Linked DNA regions of Homo sapiens: regions 1, 2, 4, 5 and 6 are each reported to be linked to region 3. Evidence: microRNA targets listed by miRTarBase, many of them from high-throughput screens and not tested one by one. Region 3 holds a microRNA gene; each other region holds the end of a gene's coding sequence.

Region 1 (4,000 bases), not on the chromosome of region 3:
ACTCCTGTACTCTACCAGCAGTGTGGCATCAAGAGCATGTGTTGACCCTGTTAATGATTTGTAATGTTTTGTCTTTCAGAACCAGAGGCAGGAGAAGTGTCCCCTCCAGTCGGTGCGGGTGTCAACAGCAACAGCTGGACCTTTAAATACGGACCAGGCAACCCCAAACAATCCGGTCCCGGTGAGTTGCCCGACAAATTCATTATCCCAGGATCTCCTGCAATCATCTCCATCCGGCAGGAGCCTACTAACAGCCAAATTGACAAAAGTGACTTCATAACCTTCGGCAAAAAGGAGGAGACCAAGAAAAAGAAGAAAAAGAAGAAGGGTAACAAGACCCAGGAGAAAAAAGAGAAAGGGAACAGCACGACTGACAACAGTGACCAGTGAGGTCCTCAAATGGAAACAAGCCACTTAGCCAGTTTTTGTAATAATGGCAAATCTCTCCCATGTAGCAATTCCCTGCTCCTTTTTCCTATCTACATGAGCCCTCTTAGAGACCTCAGAAATCTGCAGAAAGTTCCCTGTGTCTGTCTAGAACGCATTTAACAGGTTTTGTCGTAAAAGCTTTACTAAGTCTGGTGTTAACTCTTTCTCTCCACTCTGGCTTGTTTTCAGAACCTAAAAAGCAGACCCAAGTTTCCTTTCTCCTCCGCCGCAAAGGAGAGGCTTCCCAGCCCCGCCAGTGAGAGGTTGGACTCTCTGCCCTGTGCTCCGGGGATCCTGTCTTGATGACACTTGCAGGGCAGGCTGAAAAGTTTTGAGATTGAGCAGCTTGGGAGTTTGTGGCCACTGGGTATGTGTGGCTACCGCGGGTATGCGAGTGCCAGATATTGGCTGAGACGAGCCAGCTTAGACTAATTGGTACAAGGAAGGCAAGAAAACAAAGACAAATAAACAGCGGAAGTTATCAGTATGGAGGGGAAGTGTAAACTTAAAGGGACCAGACTTTCTAAATCTTACAACTCAAGAGGTGGCAGCCACCCTCTAGGAGACAAAACTACCCCCACTGACAAGGCTTTAGGAGACCCTAAAGTCTGTTGGCTGTGACGTCATTATACCTAAAATCTGCATCATACCTGCAAGCCAACAGTTCAGTGTTTTAACAGAGAACCACCCTGGGAAACAGAAGCAGATCTGATGTGTTTCCTATACATGTCCTGTGCTCACTTTATTAAAAATTCTTTTGCACACAATGTTTATGAAAAGGCCAGATCCTTTTCCAATACTTATGCAAAAGCAAAAGAAAACCCCGACACCTCACCTTTCGCTGTTTGTTGTTTCATAGATTTATTTAAAAAAAGAGAAAGTCTATAGCTATAAATCTTTAAAGAGAAATATGAATACAATTCCCCTAAACTCTCCTCAAAAGAGAATTCAGTCTACAGCCATTTAAATGATCATTGCTGCTACAGAAGTGCTTTAAGAGAATTGCCTGAAACATCTGTATTATATCGGCCACCTGCCAATCACAGCTTTACTCTTTCAGGTCACTCTGGGGCTGCCTCTTGCATGTATTACTAAATAAAATGATCTCTCTTTCTCTCTCTCTCTCTCTTTTCTAAGAAACAATTATGTGCACTTTGATACACAACCTTCTCTAACCAACTATATATCAAGACCCAAAAATTGAAGAAAAATATTGTTTTCTCATACAGTGAGCAGATTTTTCAATCTACTAATTCTGTGACTTGTCTTGGTGTGCTAGCCTACACCTTCTCTTTGGTTTAGTTTTCCTTTTCTATAACACTCTGAATTGCTAATCTTACTAACACCTATGATGTTACCTGAAATCAATCTCCCATATGTATGCTGTATGCTATGCTAAGACTCCTGAAATATACTTACTCTGTGCTTGTGTATGTGAATGTTAATGCAACTATTACCTAGAGTGAACTTTAAGCTTTATTGTTGAATGTAATTCCATTATATTTCCTTTTGTACACCTGTGAAAAAGTGGAGTAGTGTTTTTTTAACCATTGTTAATCAGCTTTTGTGTATGAAAGACACAGTAAAATTTCTTTCTTAAATCAAGATACTGGTGATTCAAGGAATTTTATTTATGGTCCAGCCAAGAGCCATCTCGTGCCAAGACTTCTGCTGGCAAGGGAATGGATAAAGCTGTTTTGTTCTAGTAACAATTTTGGAATGAATACTGACAATATTCCATGAGGGTGTGCAAGCACAAATTTTACCAATCTGACCTCTTTGAAGTTGCAGAATGCTTTGAAATTCTAATGGTATCTGAAATATCAGCTCATAGAAAGTAACAAAATTTGCTGTCACCTTAAATAAGACATTTTAATTTTGTTATAATGTACAATTTAGAAGTTTGATTAATTATATTATCTATTTAGGCATTAATATAAAAGAGGTAGGAGTCTGTTATTTAAAAAAAGCATTAAATTTAAAAAAAAACTGTCTTGTCTACTTTTAGCTTCATTCTCCCATATTTTGAAGGGTGTGTAACTTCAGCTCTGCAGGATTGCATGGGGTAAAACTTGTTACCAACACATGTGAACCATTGCTACATTGTAGGTTGTGATCATTTTGCCCCACTGAAGCCCATGTATCTGACCTTACGTGCCTTTTGAACTAGGAGAATCGGGCTAATTTATTAATGATGATAATTATAATGTATCTGTACAGCACTTTTTACATTTGCGAAGTGCTTTCCAATCCATGTTAGTTACTAGTTATTACAGCTGTAAGGATAAAACACGTCATGTGGATTCATTTTGAATTGGTGCTATTGGTATTTCCTCTGTTATTGCTAATAAATGAAAATGGTGGTATGAAAGAAATGGTGGTCATTTCTAAGAATAGGAGGAAATAGAACACTGATAAGCAATTAATACTGAAGAAGATTGCTGCAGTATGAAACTCACTGTAACACTCTCTTATCACGTTAGCTTTTATGTCCATTACTAAGGCAAAAGCCCCAGTGGAATCAAGATTCAAACTTCATATCATTAGAATGGGCAGCCAGGAGGTTGCTGCGTCACTTTGTAGTTACACTATTTCAGTTTTCTCTAATAAGAATTGCAACAAACCCATTTTTATCACAAGAGCCCTTCTAGGCATCTTTTTCATTACTTGTTTAGCCCTTGCACCTCTCTACAATTGGAAAGCCAAGTGACACCCCAAAGAAATGAACTTTTAGGTCAGGGATAGTGGCTCTTGCCTGTAATCTCAGAACTTTGGAAGGCCAAGGCCAGAGGATGGCTTGAGGCCAGGAGTTCAAGATCAGCCTGGGCAGCATAGCGAGATCCCATCTGTACAAAAAGAAATAACTTTTATTGAGTACAGGGTGTATGCCAGCCACACTACTGCATAGGTTCAGCTGTGACAAATAGATTGTTTTGTCCTTTTGTAGTTAAATTTGTATAAATATAAGCTTTAGATGCTGTAGGTTCTCAGTTAGGAGCAATTTTGCCCTCCTGGGGACATTTGGCAACGTCTGAAGTCATTGTTGCTTTTCATTACTTGAAGTGGAGGGTGCTATTGGCATCTACTGGGTAGGGGGCAACGATGCTGTGAAACACCTGGCAATGCACAGGACAGCCCCCTATAACAAAGGATCTTACAGCCCAACATGTCAATGTCTCAAATCAAGATTGAGAAACCTTGAGATAGAGTGACCATATAATTTGTGTAGTCCACTTTTGAAATGGAACAGGAGACACCATTCGTTATTACTTCAGGATTCAAGATGTAAACTGGGACTGTCCCAGGCTAACTGGGATTTATAGGGACTCTATAAATAAACTGGTATAGCTGTGCCACTAACTAGATGGGGAATTTGAGGCAAACCACTACTTCTCTCAGTTTTTCAGTCATCTCTAAACTGGTCATAATTATAATACAGACCTTATAGATTTGTGAGGTAATCTTAAAAGGTTTTAGCAGGTCTGGCACACCATAGTACTCAATAAATATTATTATTTATTAATCCTTTTCTTCCATTTCCTTACCCCCTTTTCAGAGATTTAGCTATTAG
Region 2 (4,136 bases), not on the chromosome of region 3:
ATGAGTGTGGGAAAGCTTTCAGTCATAGCTCACACCTCATTGGACATCAGAGAATCCACACTGGGGAGAAGCCCTATGAGTGTGATGAGTGTGGGAAAACCTTCAGGCGGAGCTCACATCTTATTGGTCATCAGAGGAGCCACACTGGGGAGAAACCCTACAAATGCAATGAGTGTGGGAGGGCCTTCAGTCAGAAGTCAGGCCTTATTGAACATCAGAGAATCCACACTGGAGAAAGACCCTATAAATGTAAAGAATGTGGGAAAGCTTTCAATGGGAACACTGGTCTCATTCAACACCTGAGAATTCACACAGGGGAGAAGCCCTACCAATGTAATGAGTGTGGGAAAGCCTTTATTCAGAGGTCAAGTCTCATTCGACATCAGAGAATCCACAGTGGTGAAAAATCTGAATCCATAAGCGTTTAGGAACAACATCAGTTAGAGTTTGAGCATTATTCAGCATTAGGGAAACCACACACTGGTGAGAGGTCTTTCAGTGTACTAAAAGGCAGAAAGGTCATCACAACTTTAGTGTCAGAATCTATAGTGGTGGCAAAGTTAGGATAGCTCTTTAGTAATTTGGGCCCAGTGCCTTGGTGAAGGTTGATTAGCTTGACTGTCTTTGAAAGTATCTGATGGAGCTCCTGATGACCTAATGTATCCTTTAGAAATTTAAAATAGCATTAGAGCAAGTTGCTTGTCATGGCTTGAAGAGCTTAACTTTGTCTTTTGGGTGAGTAGCTATAGGTTTGAGAGAGGCTGGCTACTCCTAGTTCCTGTGCTTCTTCCCATCTCCTGTGATCCCCCTCTCCCATTTATTCCCTTGAAGGTGCCCTTGTATTCCTAATCTGATCTAAGAAGCTGCTGTAGAGTCAGAAGTAGCTTCTGTGTGAAACTTATATTTGTATGTAGCTTTCTAGGAAAATTTTACAGACACTTAAAGTATTTATGCTTAAGTGTGCATTTTTTTATTCTAATATTCCTTCTAGTCAGTGGAAATTTGTATTCCCATACAAACTCAGAATGCTATATTTTTAACAGCACTCCAGCATTTTTCTTCATGTATCACCTTCACTGACTCCATTGAGTCATTGAGCATCTGTACATATCCTTCACCACCCCCAGTCCCAGCACCTGTGTCAGTAAAGAAAGTGGACACATTAGTAATGGTTATGGGAGTAATACAGAGAAAGAGGTGAGTGGAGACTCAGCCCAGCTGCTCTTGAGCTTGGATAGTTATACATTTTGGTGACTTCTGACTCTCCTTCCACCTCCCCACTGTACACTGTGGTACAGATAGTTGGCACTATCCTAGTTATGGCATCAGGTAGGAGAAGGAGACGAAGATGCTTTAGGAAGATAAAAACCTTACAAAGAATGTATACTCATCTTTTTTGGCCCATTACAATACTGCTTTCTCAGGTTCTTAACAGCCTGTGCAAACTCCCTGACTAGATGGTCTGTCACTCCTATCATTACCTTGCACCCATCTCTTTAGATGGCCTCAGCACCTCACTCGTTATTCTCCATCTGTTTCTTGCCATTAGTTTATATGACTTTAATATCCACAGTGGTAATCTAATACCTTACCTCACAGGTTTTCATTCTTTTGAACTCTGGTGCACTCCATCTGTAATCCATGTCTATAATCTACCAACAAAGATGTACTCTTAAACTCAGTATCACCAGGCACTATATTTCATCTTTGAGGCTTTTGTTATACCAAGGAATACTATATAAAGTAATGAGACTGGTTTAAAGTAACATGCCAGAACTTACGCATCCAATGTGGGTTGTCACTTGTTATTCCCAAGTACTATTATTCCATACTACTATATTCTTCCAAATATTTGGAACACTCTTAGAATTCCCATTTAATAAACCATATGAGAAAACCCTCTATTACTCTTACACTTTAGTTTTACCATTTGAGTAGCCACTTATTCACCAGAGTTGGAATTGAGAAATTTTGGGCTTTCCAAAATTAACCTTTAAACTTAAAATTGATTACATTGAGCCTATTCAGAAAAAAAATTATATAGGTTCTGATGAAAGCTTCATAATTTCACCCTGTGACTATCCTGAAAAGAAATAATAATCATTTTATGATTGATGGGCCAAAAAAAGCAATCAAAGTCTTACGTCATAGAGGACCACCTTTTGGATCATAAATTCTTTCCCTATAACATTCCTTCTCTGCCTCTCTATGGCCCACTTTGACCACTAACAACATCAGAATTATCTACATCAATTTCATTGAGCCATTGGTGAATGAAGACACCCATCACTTGTCATGTTGGTTTCCAACAGTCCTTTCGATTATCCTTTATTTTCTTATCCTCCCTTCTCTTGTTTCTTTTATTTATAAGTTACCATTCCTAGTTTCTTTGTACTTGAAATTTTAAGAAACCAGAAACAAGTAAATCTGGTTGTATCTAGATCTTTGCTCTGTGTTTCAGTTGTGCCTTACCCTCTGTAAGATACTGATTCTTCCTGGGGCCAGTATTACCTTGTATGCAAATATTACATATGATGGGTGCATTGTCAGAGGGAAAATATATGTGTATGTACACATGTGTATGTACACACACACACACACCTGCCATACACTTTAGAAGAACGCTTCTCTTCTATTCCAATAAAAAGTCCTTTTAGCAATGCAACATATTAACAAAATTGGGTGCATTCAGGGTGGTATGGCCATAGACCAGAGCAACACATTGAAATGTATACAGATGTACTAGCTAAAGTCTCTTTATGTGTCAGTATTAAGAGTAATATGTAGCCAGATTACTTAAATCTCAGAATTACTAAGCATGTGGCATAAATTTGGAGAAAATAATATGACTAGAAAAATTAGTGTTATATTGGGTGTGAGAAAAGACTGTGTCTTGAAAGAATTATCAAAGCTGATACAGCACATATACAGAATTAGCCAAATGGTATAAGACAATAGAAAAAGGCTGTGGATTCTTTGAGGACATCACTAGAAATCATTCTTTGTCTCAAGTTCACACTCTTAGCATAGAATATTATTGACTAGGCTGTATGACATTTTGAGCTCTTAACTGTGAATGGCATTCATTAAGCTCCTTTATCCTATAGATTCTATCTTTATGTTCATCTGAAATGAACTATTCATCAGTACTTTCTCCTCCCATCCTAAGCTTCTCATTTTAGGAACTGACATGATAAGGTGGTTCTTTCATAACTCTAATGCCATCCAACATAGCCCTGGGAGAGGCATGTTAGGTTTCAGAGATTTTCTCCATGGAGCAAGGTGCAGTGCTAGAATATGGTGGTTGATTCCCAAACAGAGCAGTTAACTTTACTCTTGGTTCTGAGTCTCCAAATAATAATAGCCGACGTTTATTGAGCACTTACTATGTGCCCAACCCTGTTATGCCTTTCTCAGGCTCATGATAAATGTATTAGTCTGTTCTCATGCTGCTATTAAAGACATACCTGACACTGGGTAATTTATAAAGGAAAGAGGTTTAATGGACTCAGTTCCACATGGCTGGGGACGCCTCACAATCATGGTGGAAGGCAAGGAGGAGCAAATCATGTCTTATACATGGATGGCAGCAGGCAAAGAGAGAACTTGTGCAGGGGAACTCTTTATAAAACCGTCCGATCTTGTGAGACTTATTCACTATCACAAGAACAGCACAGGAAAGTTCTGCCCCCGTGATTCAATTACCTCCCACTTGGTCCCACCCACGACACGTGGGAATTGTGGGAGCTACAATTCAAGATGAGATTTGGATGGGACACAGCCAAACCATATCAATAGGTATTATTTTATCCCCCATTTTATAAATGAGGAAACGGAGGCTTAGTTGAGTGAGCTGACCAATATCACCCAGCCAGTATGTGATAAAACTGATTCTGACCCACACAGTTTGATTCTAGAGCCTGTTCTGACTACTGTGCTAAGGTGTGTATAATGAACATGGTAATTCTAACCAGCTTTTTAAAAATATGTAGCGCTTGTCATGAGAGGTACTGGGGAAAAGAATGTGCAGTAGAGTGCAAATACATTACAATTACTGGAAAATTGGTGGAAAATGCTTTTTGGGGTTACAATTATATCATTTTTAAGTGTTGATGCTTTGTAGTACTACAAAGCTA
Region 3 (4,136 bases):
TGATTAAATAGTTAAATCATTCCCTAGATATGTATATATTTAGAGCTCCCAGAAAGCTGGTTATCTTTTCTTATAGCTAACACATTTTTAAAAAGCCACTTTTCTCTTGGTGATAAATATGTGTGTGTCATACTGTGGTATAGCTGCATGTCCGATCAAATGGTACTAGTTTCCAATTGACAGTAGCTTTATTAAATCTTTTCTAAGTGATAGCTGAAGCATTTTAAATTCACAGCAAAGGATTCTAAGACGTGTACTTGGAGAAAAGTTGCATAGTCATTTACCTTCTAGAATAATCCTAAAAGTAGGAAACAATAATTGGCCATGTGGTCATGTGCTAATAAAAGAACACCTTGTCCAAGATACCAGGCTTTTTCCTGTTTCAGTGCTTTTTGTTCTGACTCTTGCCTCTCCCTGTGGTGTCCTTTCCCACCCCAGGTATGTACATGATTCTTCTCCTCCTACTTCAGGAATCCACTCAAATGCCAGGCCCTCAGTGAGGCTTTTCCTAGCCACCTTATCGAAAATAGCATTCCTCTTAACTGTTTCATTACTCTATGAAATGACCGTCCATATCTATGGAGGTTTTTTTCAGTCTTTTTCTACCCTTTCCTTAAATCTTAGACTTAAACTTCCGTGAGTGCAAGGATTTTGTTCAGTGTTGCATTCCCAGTGCCTGGAATAAAGCACGCAGAAGTATTTCAGTAAGGTACTGAAAGGTACTTATTGAAGGTACTCAGTAAGTATTTCTGGGGTGGATAAATGAATAGCAAAGAGAACACCAATCCTGTGACTTATTTTGTTACCTTCATTGTATCATGGGAGGAAAGCTTGGAACTGACATGCTAGTGAGCACCTGCTTTGAATATTTATTATAATATGCATTTTCTGTAATTTTCTTTGGTGTTTGAGATATTTGGTAAAATAACTGTATTATCCTCAGTTCGTAACACGAAAGAATTTTTTAACTGCAATTTACTTTACATATGTGCATCATTGCTAGATTACCCAAGTTAAAGTGACAGGAAGCAACAAAAATGCTCCAAGCCACAATAAAATGGTAGATTGGTTTTTTGTTTGCTTGTTTGTTTTTCTCTTGTGTATATTTCCATTTTACTGCAAAACATACCAAATAATTGATTGTAGATTTTGTCACAAGGAATCATGTATGCTGTAGAAGTATAGAGATTTTCCACTTTTTTTGTTTGCTGCTGGATCTCCAGCACCTAAGAAAATATGTGGCACTTTATTTAATGTCACTCAGTCAGTATCTGTTGGATAAGTAAATAAATCCAGAGGTTGTTTAAAATTACGTACATGGGAATATTGTCAAAATGTCAATTCATGATCCAAAGAAAATGTGCAATTGAAATCTGATATCTTCTTTTTTCTTCCACAGAGCCCCTCCCCAGAAGGCAAAGGATCACCCAGCTGCTGGAAGGTGTAGGTACCCTCAATGGCTCAGTAGCCAGTGTAGATCCTGTCTTTCGTAATCAGCAGCTACATCTGGCTACTGGGTCTCTGATGGCATCTTCTAGCTTCTGCTTCAGTGTCCTGAGAGAGATTATTGGGCAGTCTTTAATAATGAAAACTTTACCTTGAATTACACACACACACACACACACACACACACACACACACACACACTCACACACACACTCACACACACACAAAGAGAGAGAGAGAGAGAGAGAGAGAGAGACAGAGAGAGAGGAGAGAGTCAAGTTCTAGGGTGTTAAGTCCAACATTATCAGCTGGGGCTTGGGAACCTTCAAGGTTTTATGAATGATGAGGTCTATTTGCTTTCAATACTACAAGGGGGAGGAATCTGGATATTTATCCATGTTTTAGCTCTTACCTGTTTTTGTTTTACCTCTTTTTTTCTCTTTCCCCCCTATGAAAGGTATCATTTGGATAGATCAATCTATTCATCTATCTACCTACCTACCTATCTACCCCTACCCATCCACCCATTTATCCATCCACCCATCCATCCATCCATCCACCCACCTGCCCACGTACCTACCAGTTTATCTATCCGACCTTCCTTCCATCCAGCTTTTTCATCTCTTGACTTTTAGATGGCATTTTCAACATGATGTCATGATTAAATGATGACAACTTGATGATATGATGGTTTAAGGAAATTTTGTTGGTAGTAGGTAAGTCCCAGCATTTCTGACTGTTGGTTTTCTTTTCCTTGTGGTAGAAAAGACAAATGCCAATTTTGAAATCTTGAATGCAGTAGGCAGTTGTGTTGAAATAGTATGTGAGAATTACTTGCAAGCTGAACATCCAGGTCTGGGGCATGAACCTGGCATACAATGTAGATTTCTGTGTTCGTTAGGCAACAGCTACATTGTCTGCTGGGTTTCAGGCTACCTGGAAACATGTTCTCCATTGGCTGTCTCACCAATGCTACCCCTATAATGTTTCTGAATAACTGTTTTCCAGGAGGTATAAACCAGTGGAGTTTATCATTGAATAGAGTGCAGAGAAAGGACCGCAAGAAAGCTGATCACCTCAGCAATGAATGATTTCAATACGATTTCACCCAAATGGTCTCACACACCAGCCTAGTAAACCAGAGATAAGGTGTAATGTCATCCTTCCTTCCTTCTCCCTGCCTCAACTGTCAAAGATTGACAACTTACATGTTGTTTACTTTTTGGCTTCTATTTCTGTTCATAATTATTATCAGAAGGCATAGCACCCACAAGCCTAATCATACTGCCTTACAACCTTATTCCTCTTCATTTTGTCTTCTCACTTACCTGCAGAAACCCAGTTTATTTTTGTTCTCCCTTTACCACACCAGCCTTGTAACTGTTATGAATGACCCTCAATCTCACTGGAATCTGAATCACTCAGGAATTCAAGCAAACTGGATGTTTTAACCACTGTTCAGCTTTCTTATGGAATGACAGAGAACTTGTAAAGATAAAACACCAGTTTGCAGGAAGAAAGGAAGAGAATGGAAATTGCTTCTGGAAAATACTAGTTTTACAATATGTTTTGTTTGTCTGCTCTCTTAAATAAACTTAATCCTATAAACATTTTTTAAGAACTAGCCATTAAGACTGTTAAGTTCTCAATTATAAAGGAATAAAATGTTTTAAGGAGGATTTATTTGCCCTTGCTTATATGAACTGCATATTTTTAGTAGGAAATCATGTAATTTAAATTAGTATTGGTTAACAGATTTAACGTAGAAAATGGACATATAAAGAATACAAGGATAAATGTCTACATGTAATAATGGATGGTAGTGATATAATGCATTTTTGTCATCCCATGCTGAATTCAGTAAAAATAAAGCTAATGACTTGGAGCTTTTAAAAGATTGTACTGTTCTCTGTGTGTGTCTTTTGGCTTCCTACTCACCAATCAGTTCTATTATCTATTCTGTACCTGAGCCACTGGCTTTTGTGACCCGGGAAGAGAAAGTAATTCCACTTAAGACGTTTGACAGGCTTTTAAGAGAAATAAGTGGCTCTGTGCAACATGGTTATGTTTAATAAATCATAATTACCAAAGGGACAGTTTCTCTTCTCCCATGTCCACTCATACTTTTTTTTTTTTTTTTTTAAAGAGATGAGTTCTCATTCTGTCATTCAGGCTGGAGTGCACTGGTACAGAACTCTTGGGCTCAAGTGATCCTCTCGCCTCAGCCTCCAAAAGTGCTGGGATTACAGGCTTGAACCACCATGCCCAGTCCTCCACTCCTTACTTCTGATGTTCTTTGAGTCCCTTTGCCTATCATTAAATGAGAAGGTGTTGACAGTGGTGCCAGGTGTGAAGAACTCCCTAATTCCATTGATAAGTTTACATTTCCCTCTCAGGTACAAGTATTGGGTTGATCCTCAAAGCAAGATTGAATGTTGTGATAATATAATAAGAAAAAGACATATTTGGTCTTCACCCTCAGTTCCTGGAACAGAGCTGCTAAAACTGTCATAATTTTCTAACTAATAGAGGTGATAGCATCTTTTGTTAAAGTATTTGGTCTTAGTCCCCTGTTCCTGACACAAGAGCTTCTAAGATCCTTGGACTCTCTGGAGTGATGAGTGTCTTTCTGTATGCTAACAAGATAATGAGATGACTTGGCTTAGCGGGGAGTAGAGGTGGTGGCAAGT
Region 4 (4,136 bases), not on the chromosome of region 3:
TGCCATTTGCAGTTCTCTACATTTCTACAAGATAATTGACCATAAAAGGATAGAAAGTCCCCTCTTTTCACAACAGAAAACTCAAGTCTATTATTTTTCTCAAAAATGATAGATTTGGGTAAGTGTGTCTAATGGGTATGCTATCCTGCCACAGGAGGACATCTCTAGACTTCGCAGGAAGCTGGAGACCACAAAGAAACCAGACAATGTACCCAAGTGTGATGAGATTCTGATGGAAGAGATTAAGGATTACAAGGTTAGAAAAAATGCCTTAGTGATTAGTTTTTTGTCAAAGCTTTAAGTGGCCTAATAGACTGGGAGAATAATTTGCATGATAGTAACCAGAGAATGGTTTATTTTGGAGGTTGGGGGGAAATGATGCTCTTTTTTTAGTGCCTTGTGGGTTTTCTTCTTGGTTGTGTAGTATATGAGAGCCATTTGGATCATAAACTTTCATGGTTGTTCAAACTCTGACATCTTTTCTTTTTAGGCACGCTTGACCTGTCCGTGCTGTAACATGCGTAAAAAGGATGCTGTTCTTACTAAGTGTTTTCATGTCTTCTGCTTTGAGTGTGTGAAGACACGCTATGACACCCGCCAGCGCAAATGTCCCAAGTGTAATGCTGCTTTTGGTGCCAATGATTTTCATCGCATCTACATTGGTTGATCTAAGTCAAGAGAAGAAGAGGAGCTGGCTAGTCAGGAACTTATTCATTAACCACCAAACCTCTACCTCTTCTCTCCTTGACTGTCACCTGTAGGACAGTTTATCAGTCAACTACCTTTCCTCCAGACTTTACTTCCAGGCTCTCCTCTTCAGTAGCTGGATGACTTTAGCAGAAAGGACTGGTAAATACAAGCCTTGGGTTTCAGAATGAATTAGAAACAAATAACTCTTACTGTCTTCCCTCCCAGCTTTGTTTATTTTGTGCTTTTAGACTTTTCAGTGTTTTCTTTTTCCAGCCCACTGTATAAACTTGGATTGTCCATTCCTCCTGAAGAAATCAAGTTGGTATTTTTGATGTGGAAAAGGGAACAAAAGTGGAAACATGGCTACTTTTGGGGAGTGATATTTTAAAAAATAAGTTGTCTATGGGCACAAAGTTTTCTTCATTTGTGTAGCAAACTTCTTGTGAATGTGGATTACAAAATGGTATAATTGTGCTACTCTCCCCTGGGTGGTTTGCAGCCCTAATGAAATTATGTCTAGGATGATTCAGTCTATTTCCCATTTACTAGCAGAGTAACTTGTTAAGATCAGCTGGCTTTCTTGTTAAAGTTATTTAAGTTTTGAATGCTCTACTACTTCAAGTCTTTAAATTTCTTGAGACTAGAATAATTTTAAATAATATGACCCTTTGTCTTCTAATGAAATAAAGATTGAAGAGGTTGAGTCAGGACTGAGCTGGTGAAGAAATCTTGTGGGTATTCTGGAAATTTGATACGGAGAGAACTTGGTGAGCTATGAATTACTCTCAGTCTCCTTTTTACAGGGTTGTTGTGATCCCTCTTTTCCAGAAAATTCTGTGGAATGTTTCTGTAGGACTTTGTTCTCCACAAGCTTGAATTAAAGCAGGATTCAGTTTGCATTTGTGTTTATGGTTTTTCTTTGAAACTTTTGTCTTTATTATTACAAGTTGATTTTATATCTGCTGTTATAGAATTAAATTTTCTTGCATGGAAATAATCAGCTTAGGTTAAGAGGTTGGCCTTGTTTAGAGTATTTAGATCTTTGCTTAATTGAAGCACTTTTCTCCCAATTCTTTTATTGAGTCTATTCTATGGAGAAATTATACCTAAAAGATTAATTTATTTGACTACTCAGTTATCTTTCATAGTTCATTAGGTGGGGTAAGAGACTATAATTTGTTTTTTGGGGGAGCATATTGCTGCCTCTAGCTTTAGGGTGAGAGTTCTTGCATTATGTGGTGGGTTTTTTTTTTTTTTTTTTGAGATGGAGTTTTGCTCTTGTCGCCCAGGCTGGAGTGCAGTGGCACAATCTTGGCTTACTGCCACCTCCGCCTCCTGGGTCCAAGCAATTCTCCTGCCTCAGCCTCCCGAATAGCTGGGATTACAGGTGCTCACCACCATGTCCAGCTAATTTTTGTATTTTTAGCAGAGATGGGGTTTTACCATGTTGGCCAGGCTGGTCTCAAACTCCTGACTTCAGGTGATCCACCTTCCTTGGCCTCCCAAAGTGTTTTGATTACAGGTGTGAGCCACCATGCCCAGCTGCATTATGTTTTATAATAACCAGCAAACCAGAGGTTTCATAAATCTCTGGCAAGGGGTTGTGTAAAATGGATCCTTCTTGATCACCACCTGTCCTAGAAGACAGGTAAGAGCAAATTCTGTGTCTTTCTGTGGTCACCAGCTATAATCAGCAGGATTTGCACTGAATTCCACAAAGTCATGTGGTATGAATTAAGCAATGAGTCTAATTGAAGAATCTTACTAGGTCATCAAGAGAGGTCATGGGTCCCTTGATCCCCCTGCTCAGCAAACACCCCCACCCCCACAGAACCATCATGACAGGATTAGCTCCTGCTTCTGGACACAGTGAGTTTTCATTTAGTAATAGGACACTTTCCCCTTGCTTCTTGCTCTTCTTATAGGGTAAGCTTGAGCATAACTTTGTTGGTTGGGTGCAGATATACTGCTTGGTCAACAGGTGGTTTGGGCTTGGCTGTTGGCTGTTTGTGACAATTGGCTGAGAAAGCCAGCTGCCCAGCACCAGGGGACCATAGGGCCTGTGGAATGTTGTGGAGGAAACCACTAGCCCCATGGGAAGTTGGATTTAGAGGAAGTTCCTCTAGTTGAGATGAGCAGGGAGCCCCTGATCCCAACTGGCTTGAGGTCCTGGCAACACAAGTTGAGCTCTCACAGTCATTTTCAGATAACAACCAAAAATGATGGTGATTTTTTGGCAGTTGGCTTCTCTCACTACAGAAGAGGTCAATGAATGCGCTTTAGGAATACTCCCAAACTGCATACCAAATTTTATTTGTATTGTATGTACATTATTCATAGCTTTTTTGGATCCTAGTTAGCAATCACAGCCCTTGATCCATATGAACTTTAAAGGGTAATTTCTTTAAGGTAATGCTTATAAATGCCAATTTCAAAGATTATTATAGAAGTCCTAGAGGCTTCTCATTTCTTAAAAACACTTCAGGCTGGGTGCAGTGGCTCACGCCTATAATCCCAGCAGTTTGGGAGGCTGAGACAGGAGGATTGCTTGAGCCCAGGAGTTTGAGACCAGCCCAGGCAACATAGGGAGACCCCGTCTCTACAAAAAATTTCGAAAATTAGCTGGCTGTGGTGGTGCACACCTGTAGTCCCAGCTACTTGGGAGACTGCAGCGGGAGGATAGCTTGAGCACCGGAGGTTAAGGCTGCTGTGAGCTGTGATTATGCCATGGACTCCAGCCTGGGTGACACAGTGAGACCCTGTCTCAAAAACAAACAACAACCATTTCAGATTTTGTAGGGATGGTCTCTCTCTCTCTTTTTTCTTTCTTTCATTGTTACCTTGGAAATTTCTTAGTGACTTTGACCAAAGTCAGGTGTGCTCTGAGGCATGCATAACTACATGGCTTGGATCTTACCTTCTTACTTACTATAGGGATCTTTTTCAAAGGTATTGAGCTGTTTCTGCAATTGTTTTCTTACATGAATTTCCATTGCAATTCCTTTTCCTTTTTCTCTGTCCAGATCCGTAGGCTTCCTTGTTCTTCAAGGGCCGGAATTTGATGCACATAGTTTAATGTACATGCCACTAGAGTGATGACTGTGATTTGATTTTGTGAAGATTCTAGACAATAAATAATCATCAGTCTTCTAAACCTACTAGGATGGTGATGCTTACACTTGCCGGAAGCATATGCTACTCTCATCTTTATTCCCATTGTCATTTGCTAGGATGTGGAATGCCGTTACATATTGTTCTTTGAAGATTTATCTGAGGACTGCCAGATAAACCCATGTCCCAGTGGATCTGCAGAAAAGTTTTGATTAGTCATTATTGCAGAAGTCTGCTTTTCTGATGTTAAGACAGATACACTGAGATTAGTAGAAAAATGGTGGATTATGTGTAGGTTGGATTGGGTTTGCACAATAGGAAACCCATGACATAGA
Region 5 (4,136 bases), not on the chromosome of region 3:
GGCAAATTAATAGTGTGCCAGAGTAAAGAAATCAGTGACTTTATCTGTTATCTTTACATTAATGTATCTTGAGGGGTTTGTTATTAAGTTTATGGTAAGTCCAACATCAGAAAATTCACATCTTACTAAATAAAATACTTAACACATTTCTAAAAGTGCTATTTGTAAGGATTAGTTATTTGTATTTTTCTGAGACTTGAATTCATAGATTTGCCTTGGTTCATCAGTATATTAATGAATAATGCCTATCCTATTAACAACTCCAGTACTTCAATTAAATGTTAATTTGGAAATTTTTCTGCCCACTTCTAAACAGGTTGGTGAAAATTGCCCCTCAATATTATGACATGAGCAATTTCCCACAGTGTGAAGCAAAGAGACAGTTGGACCGCATCATTGCCAAACTTCAATCCAAGGAATATTCACAGTACTGAATTCAGTGCTTAGAACTGAAGTTATTGAGAGGACAGCTTTAAAAGATGAATGAACTCAAAAGTTCGAGTTGTGCTCTTCACGTTGGTTCGATAATGGCCTTTATTTGAAAGCTTTTTAATTTTTCTTTACAGTAAATATTCCATTCTGATTTCATAAATTAAACATTTATGCCTCCCTTTTGTGTTGACACTGTAGCTCATACTGGAAAAGTCGATCAATGTTTTGCAGTTTATTGAAAGTAGTTCTATATATAACAATGTTATAAGCATTTCTTTAGAAATGGTTGAAAATGCTTCTAAAATGTGATTATCGACCATGGTATGCATGATCGTTGTAATTGTTGACATTCCTTTTAGAAGTTGTGAAATGTTACAACTTGTGCTTATGTAGACACAATCTTCTGTCTCAGTACAGAGGCACTGACTTCAATAAAGTCTATTTATACTAATTTTGGCCAAAGCCCTTTGGTATCTTTGTTCTAGTCTCTAAGTATAGTTGTTTTTCAAGTGTGGAGCTTTTTTATTATTATAATTATACTGTTACTACATATTTAGTATCTTTCTACCAGGAGTACTCCTTAGGAAAAGTAGCTGTTAAAGCAGTATTTTTAAGAGCATGGCTTAGCGCTTTGTTAGGTTAATCAGGATGTGATCGATCTAAAAGGGGTAAAATGTGTGTAGTGATCATTTGAAACTGGACCCCAAAAGAGAGAATAATGAAAGGAGAGCTCTCTACTTGTCTTTCTTAGAGTTCCTTTCATAAGGCTCATAATTTATTAACTACATTTTTGTCAGATGTTTTTATTATACTTCTAGCTTCTCAAACACGTTTATTAGTATTAGGTAAGAGGAAAGCATATTTTAGATCTCAGTTTAACAAAATTCTTAGTGATGGAAGTTTTATGCAGTATACAAAATAATTTGTATAGTGTGTTAAAATGTACATTTGACCTTCCATTTTCTATGACAGGCAGTAGACAAGTTGAAAACTTGTCTACATTCATTTTGGAATGAAAATTGAGGTGTTTTATGTGGCCCATAAAATGTTTTTTAATCAGTTATTTTCATATGAAGACTAAATACTGTACTCATTAGTCTGGACTTCCCTCTTCTTCCCCTCCTACCTTTATAAGTTTTTAAGTGTTAAAGGAAATATATAGGTGTGTGCCTGGCATTTAAATATACTTGGTAACTAGCATGTGACTTAGGGAGTTGGGCAAGTTAACTCTTTGAAGCTAACTAGTATGCTTTTTAGTGTAGGTAGGTGTTACTAAATGATGCCTAGTGGCTTGAAAAAGTTAATGTGCCTTCTATAAGTGCCTCATTTTGTTCCCATGGAATAATTTACATGGTGGAATAATACTTCAGGTTACATTTAAATATTGGTTAGATATTCATGCAACATTAAGCATTGGCAACATTGCCAGAATGTCTTAAAGTTATGTTGAAAAAGTCTAAGTACTTGGTCAGACTGTTCTCACTGAAATGGCAGCTCTCACCAGAGGAATATTTTGCTTGTTAATTTAAGCTGCAAGTGTAGTTTGTAAGTTGTTGTGTATCTTTATAATCTGACCATCCAATTTTAAGTAGGTCTCAGAGTGGTGTAACGTATTATTTAATCTTGGGCTGTGTAAAATGTGAAGTTAGACCATTAGGTTTTCTTACAGAGAAACTGTTACGTGTTAGAGTTTTCAGATATCTAGAATAAAGTTTGGTATTTGGCAGAGCTTCTAGGAATCATGGGTGTGCATTGAGAATGGCCACATAGAAAGAGCAAGTTGAGTTTTTATCATGATGTCTATCCCCCACCATCTCCAGTTGTTCTAGCCTGCCTACATCTGACCAAAGCTGAAAATTCTTTTTTTTTTTTTTTTCTTTTTTAAAGACGGAATCTCGCTCTGCTGCCCAGGCTGGAGTGCAGTGGTGCAAACTCGGCTCACTGCAAGCTCTGCCTCCTGGGCTCACGCCATTCTCCTGCCTCAGCCTCCCGAGTTAGCTGGGACTACAGGCACCCACCACCACGCCTGGCTAATTTTTTTGTATTTTTAGTAGAGACGGGGTTTCACCATGTTAGCAAAGATGGTCTCGATCTCCTGACCTCGTGATCCGCCCGTCTCGGCCTCCCAAAGTCCTGGGATTACAGGCGTGAGCCACCTTGCTCAGCCTAAAGCTGAAGATTCTTACCATTGATGTTATTGACAAAGTTGTGGCTTTTAAAAATGGTCTTCTCTCAACCTCCTTATCTTACAAATTTGGCAGCTGAACAGCAAAGTTGTTAGTTTCCTTTGTTCACATAGAGCTATGACTATCAAATAATTTATTTGTGCTATACAACAAGAAAATTAAAAAGTTTTTTGGAGATTACCTGAAGAGGTCACCTTCCTTATCTCTCAACTTGGAATAGGTGAACTGCTTGTTGCATTATGGTATAAGGAAAGAAAGCCATCAGTAAGTAGAACCATTGACCCTGCAAATGTCAGGAAATTAACACAACTTGTGAGAAATGGGACAAAAGATGCCCTACAATAAACCAATTTAGCTAGAATCCAAAAGCATTCTATACTCAAGTTTTTTATACGGCATATGACTTAATTCTAGAATTTTAGGTTTATAAGGTACTCGCATATACTTAGAAGTAATTTTAATGGCTATCCTCCCTAACCAGATACATCAAGCAAAACAGTTCATTACCCTTGAAGGCTGCCTAATAGCTCTTAGAAATGCTAAGCTAAAGCCCTTTCTGTGTAACACCTGATTCCAGTTTTTCCTTCTAGAACATAATTAAACAAGGCCATTCTGCTACTTGATGGCCATTTAGATATTTGGAGTTAACTGTCATCTTCCCTTATTTTTAATTTAGACTGAATACCCTGGTTTTGTTTGTTTGTTTGTTTTCTTTCCTGTCAACATTTGTCTTTAACATGGTTTCCAGCTATTCTGTACATTCCTGGTTAACATCTGCCAAATACTCTGTGGATTGCAGTCAGTACTATGGTCTAAGCTGGACAGACTGCAGTTGAACTTGCTATTTCCCAAAGGACCAGGCCTACCATCACTTCTGTTACTACAATTTCAGATTACATTAACCTTTCAAGCAACCACAGCATACTTTTGTTTCATATTAATCTTAGTATAAATTTAAGGCACGTAATTATTACTTGAGAATGTTAATCTCTGTGGCTCAGGGCTGAGAAGGGACCTTCACAGACCTTGGGTCGTGTTAATCTTCGGAGACTTCACCCCACATGTTCAAATATATCCATAGCTCACATGTTCAAATATGTCCATAGCTCATTAATGACATTTAAAAAAATTAAAGGCAGGATAGGAATATCTTAATTTTAAATGTTTTCTAACAGTCTCAGAATTCTTCTAGTATGAAACCACATTATTTCAAACGCAGTTTTTATCAATGTTACATTTAAAAATGAAGTTGACAGATTTTAGTAAATGATTGCATGTAAACATTAATTTGAATTTTGCAGTTTCTTTAATATTAGAGAACATGATGAGGTGGTTTTCTGGTCTTGTGCATTTTTAGTGGTCCCTAAAAAATGGGCTATAAGGATTTCTTAGATGATTAACAGCATTTCAGAGCACGAGTCATGGTTCAGAGACAGTTTTTAAAGTTCTGCTTTATTGAGGTATAATTAACATCAACTATATAGTTTGATAAAGTTTGACAAATGTATACAGTTGTGT
Region 6 (4,000 bases), not on the chromosome of region 3:
AGATTGCGCCACTACACTCCAGCCTGGGCGATAGAGCGAGTCTCCGTCTCAAAAAAAAAATGTGCATCAAGCATAGGATTGCTTCGAGTTTGCCCACCACAAGTGTATCTTTTTAATCAGGACATGGCATGTGTTTCCCCCAAGCTCATTTTAGAGACCAGGGCAGTGGGAGTAGTTGTAAAATGTGAGAGGCAAAGGTCAAAGTTTGTGGCTCTTGTCTTTAAAATGCAGAAGCTGTGGAAACACATCAAGCACAAGTATGAGAACAAGTAGTTCCTTGGAGGCCCCCATCCAGGCCAGAAGGACCAGGTCCACCCAGCAGCTGTTTGCCCAGAGCTGGAGCCTCAGCTTGAAGATGATGCTCAAGGTACTCTTCATGGACCACCATTCGCTGTTGGCAAGAAACGGCTTTACTTACAAAACAGACTCTTTACCTTCTGCTGTGTTTGAAGTATGTTTAGTCAGCATGCTCAGGAAATAAATGTGAATTGCCCTTGAGACCTGCTTCTACATTGGTTGCTTTGTTAACTCTACCTGATCTTCACTTGTCAGTAATTTGAGACCACTTCAAAGCCCTCTGCAAACACCCCAAAGGCAGAATCTGCTATTTTGAGTTTTCCATTAACTTCCAAAGAATTCTGGTTTTCAAAACAGGAGCCAGAGTTGGAGATATTACAGTCAACTTTGGCTTCTAAGCCAGTAATTCCATTCTTAAATACCTCACTGTCTTGGCCATGGGGAAGCACTATGGCCTCAGCTGGGGGAAAGACCCTGGCCTAGGGGTCTTAGCCACTCCCCACCCTAGGGTATAGTTCAGGGGTATCCAATCCTTTGGCTTCCCTGGGCCATGTTGGAAGAATTGTCTTGGGCCACACATAAAATACAGTAACCATAGCTGATGAGCTAAAACAAAAAACAATGGTTTGTGCAAAAATCTCATAATGTTTTAATAAAGTTGAAGAATTTGTGTTTGGGCCTCATTCAAAGCCATCCTGGGCTGCGTGCAGCCTGCAGGCCACGGGTTGGACAAGCTTGGTGTATTCTGCCTATTACTGAGTATCTTTTGGTAAGCAGTCATACCTCTCTGGGTCACAGCCTCCTGCCACAGTTCCACTCTGATGAGTTCAGTTCATAAAAGTGCTTAGTTGGTGGGTTTGAATCCTTACTCCACTGATTCTAGCTATGGGAACCAAGGTGATATGGTTTGGCTGTGTCCCCACCCAAATCTCGTTTTGAATTGTAGCTCCCATAGTGCCCATGTGTTGTGGGAGGGACTCGGTGGGAGATAATTGAATCATGGGAGCGGTTCCCCCACACTGTTCTCGTGATAGTGAATAAGTCTCACGAGATCTGATGATTTTATAAGGGGTTTCCCCTTTTGCTTGGCTCTGATTCTCTTGCCTGCTGCCATGTAAGACGGGCCTTTCGCCTTCCACCATGATTGTGAGGCCTCCTCAGCCATGTGGAAATGCGAATGCATTAAACCTCTTTTTATAAATTACCCAGTCTCGGGTATGTCTTTATCAGCAGCGTGAAAATGGACTAATACACAAGGGCAAGGCACTTGAACTTGCTGAACTCCGGTTTCCTTATCTGTAAAATGGGGTAGTAGAACATACTGTGTGGGATTTTTGGGAGTATTAAAGGAGTTGCAGGCCTGTAATCCCAGCACTTTAGGAGGCTGAGGTGGGAGGATTGCTTGAGGCCAACAGTTTAAGACCAGTCTAAGCAACATAGTGAGATACCCTGCCTCTACAAAAAAATTTAAAATTACCTGAGCATGGTGGCACCAGCCTATAATCCCAGCTACTTGGGAGGCTGAGGTGGGAGGATTACTTGAGCCAAGAAGTTAAGGTTACAGTGAGTTATGATTGTGCCACTGCACTCCTGCCTGGGGGAGAGTGAGACCCTGTCTCTAAAAATTTTTGGCTGGGCATAGTGTCTCACACCTGTAATCCCAGCACTTTGGGAGGCCAAGGCAGGCGGATCACTTAAGGTCAGGAGCTCAAGACCAGCCTGGCCAACATGGTGAAACCCCATCTCTACTAAAAATACAAAAATTAGCCGAGTGTGGTGGCATATGCTTGTAATCCCAGCTACTCGGGAGGCTGAGGCAGGAGAATTGCTTGAACTCGGGAAGTGGAGGTTACAGTGAGCCGAGATTGCGCCACTACACTCCAGCCTGGGAGACAGCAAGACTGTCTTGCTCTGTCATCCAGAATGGAATGCTATGGCCTGATCTCAGCTCAATGCAGCCTCGACCTGGGTGCAAACAATCCTCCCACCTCAGCCTCCCAGGTAGCTGGGACTACAGGTGTGCGCCACCACTCCCCACTAGTTTTTTTGTATTTTTTGTAGAGGTAGGGTTTTGCCATGTTGCCCAGGCTGGTCTCGAACTCCTGGACTCAAGACATCCTCCTGCCTTGGCTTCCCAAAGTGTTGGGATTACAGGCGTGAGCCACCATGCCCAGCCAAAAATGTTTTTAAATTAAATTTTTAAAAATAGAGGAGCTGTAGGCCGGGCGTGGTGGCTCACGCCTGTAATCCCAGCACTTTGTGAGGCCGAGGTGGGTGGATCACGAGGTCAGGAGATTGAGACCATCCTGGCTAACACGGTGAAACCCCATTTCTACTAAAAATACAAAAACATTAGCCGGGCGTGGTGGCGGGCGCCTGTAGTCCCAGCTACTCGGGAGGCTGAGGCAGGAGAACGGCGTGAACCCGGGAGGCGGAGGTTGCAATGAGCAGAGATCGCATCACTGCACTCCAGCCTGGGCAACAGAGCAAGACTCCATCTCAAAAAAAAAAAAAAAAATAGACGAGCTGTAATGCAGTTAGCACAGTCACAGATGCTGGCACATGGAAGAAACTGTTGGCAGAGAGACATGGAGGCTAAGGACTCAGAAAACCAGACGATTCTGCTGGAAGGCTGGAGCAGTAGGAATGTGAAGAGGAGGAGTTGGAGAAACGTCTGGTCATTCATTCAGCAAGTGTTTGGCTGGCCACTGTGAGGCACTGTGCTAGCAGGACATATGATGGTAATATAGCATGTGGGGCTTAAACTCCTATGGGGAAGACACTAAAAGCCATCCTGTATTATTACAGACTGAGCCAAAGGCTCTGGGAAGCAGTGCAAGGAGAGGGAGGGATTAACCAGGGTGACAGCTGGTCTAGGGAAGCCTCAGAAGAGCTGAGACCGATAGGTGATAAAGATGAGCCACTTACGTTGGGCGTTAGAGGCAAAGCAGGGGAAGTAGCAGGTTTTAGGGCCCATATGGGGAAAGCACTTGCTGTGTTGCAGGAGCTCACAGGCCAGGTAGATGAGGTTGAAGGTGGAGAATACACGAGACCAGATCATTCAGGACCTGGTAAGTCATAGTGAAGAATCTGGGCCGGGCACAGTGGTTCATGCCTGCAATCCCAGCACTTTGGGAGGCCGAGGTGGGTGGATCACTTGAGGTCAGGAGTTCAAGACCAGCCTGGCCAACATGGTGAAACCCCTGTCTCTACTAAAAATACAAAAATTAGCGGGGGCGTGGTGGCGTGCACCTATAACCCCAGCTACTTGGGAGGGTGAGGCAGGAGAATCGTTTGAACCTGGGAGGCAGAGGTTGTAGTGAGCTGAGGTCTCACCACTGCACTCTAGCCTGGGCGATAGAGTGAGACTCCATCTCAAAAAAAAAAAAAAAAAAAAAAAAGAATCTGGATTTTACCAAAATTAGAATGAGTAGCTACTACTGAAAATGTCTTAAGCAAGGGAGCAACAAGCTCTGTCATATAAAAACCTCACTCTGGGAACTGTGGGGCAATTAGATTGGAAGTGGGTGGGAATAAAAGCAGAGAGCCTAGCTAGGAGGCTGATGCCTGGCTCCTGGTTAGAGCTGATGGCTGTTAGAGACCTTGCAGCCTGGCTGGAAACCGTGCCTCCTGGCTGGGAGTGCCAGAGGAGAACACTGGGAAGCCCTGAGCAGGCATAGAGCAGTTGTTTTGTAGCTGGGGT

The links. The annotated mature microRNA hsa-miR-221-3p reads AGCUACAUUGUCUGCUGGGUUUC and lies in region 3 at 2,353-2,375, shown strand. An mRNA with a match to its seed (bases 2 to 7 or 8) in the 3' UTR can be bound and repressed. Matches are read on the target gene's strand: a 7mer-m8 pairs with bases 2 to 8, a 7mer-A1 pairs with bases 2 to 7 and ends in A, and an 8mer does both.
Region 1: miRTarBase lists PCDHA1 as a target of hsa-miR-221-3p. Seed matches in the 3' UTR shown: 8mer at 450-457.
Region 2: the mRNA of ZKSCAN8 is a reported target of hsa-miR-221-3p. Seed matches in the 3' UTR shown: 7mer-m8 at 909-915, 7mer-m8 at 2,782-2,788 and 7mer-m8 at 3,987-3,993.
Region 4: miRTarBase lists RNF20 as a target of hsa-miR-221-3p. Seed matches in the 3' UTR shown: 7mer-A1 at 1,118-1,124.
Region 5: miRTarBase lists DHX15 as a target of hsa-miR-221-3p. The part of its 3' UTR that is shown has no 7-base or 8-base seed match.
Region 6: miRTarBase lists UQCR10 as a target of hsa-miR-221-3p. The part of its 3' UTR that is shown has no 7-base or 8-base seed match.

Annotation. Positions count from the first base shown.
Region 1 is chr5:141,009,548-141,013,547 of GRCh38, forward strand. PCDHA1 (protocadherin alpha 1) reads left to right here. Exons shown (of 4, transcript NM_018900.4): 4 at 80-2,800. The coding sequence ends at 390. PCDHA2 (protocadherin alpha 2) reads left to right here. Exons shown (of 4, transcript NM_018905.3): 4 at 80-2,800. The coding sequence ends at 390. PCDHA3 (protocadherin alpha 3) reads left to right here. Exons shown (of 4, transcript NM_018906.3): 4 at 80-2,800. The coding sequence ends at 390. PCDHA4 (protocadherin alpha 4) reads left to right here. Exons shown (of 4, transcript NM_018907.4): 4 at 80-2,800. The coding sequence ends at 390. It also overlaps PCDHA5, PCDHA6, PCDHA7, PCDHA8, PCDHA9 and PCDHA10, and 7 more genes. Among named protein-coding and RNA genes, the nearest start is that of PCDHB1, 40 kb to the right of the region's middle.
Region 2 is chr6:28,153,590-28,157,725 of GRCh38, forward strand. ZKSCAN8 (zinc finger with KRAB and SCAN domains 8) reads left to right here. Exons shown (of 6, transcript NM_006298.4): 6 at 1-4,136. The coding sequence ends at 428. Among named protein-coding and RNA genes, the nearest start is that of ZKSCAN8, 14 kb to the left of the region's middle.
Region 3 is chrX:45,744,419-45,748,554 of GRCh38, reverse strand. It overlaps MIR221 (microRNA 221), which reads left to right and starts at 2,289; the gene lies at 2,289-2,398. It overlaps MIR222HG (miR222/221 cluster host gene), which reads left to right. Exons shown (of 2, transcript NR_170290.1): 2 at 1-3,341. MIR222 (microRNA 222) reads left to right here and starts at 1,431; the gene lies at 1,431-1,540.
Region 4 is chr9:101,561,756-101,565,891 of GRCh38, forward strand. RNF20 (ring finger protein 20) reads left to right here. Exons shown (of 20, transcript NM_019592.7): 19 at 155-256; 20 at 491-1,589. The coding sequence ends at 667. Among named protein-coding and RNA genes, the nearest start is that of RNF20, 30 kb to the left of the region's middle.
Region 5 is chr4:24,524,222-24,528,357 of GRCh38, reverse strand. It overlaps DHX15 (DEAH-box helicase 15), which reads left to right. Exons shown (of 14, transcript NM_001358.3): 14 at 317-883. The coding sequence ends at 434. Among named protein-coding and RNA genes, the nearest start is that of MIR573, 6.0 kb to the right of the region's middle.
Region 6 is chr22:29,769,447-29,773,446 of GRCh38, forward strand. UQCR10 (ubiquinol-cytochrome c reductase, complex III subunit X) reads left to right here. Exons shown (of 2, transcript NM_013387.4): 2 at 232-967. The coding sequence ends at 273. Among named protein-coding and RNA genes, the nearest start is that of UQCR10, 4.1 kb to the left of the region's middle.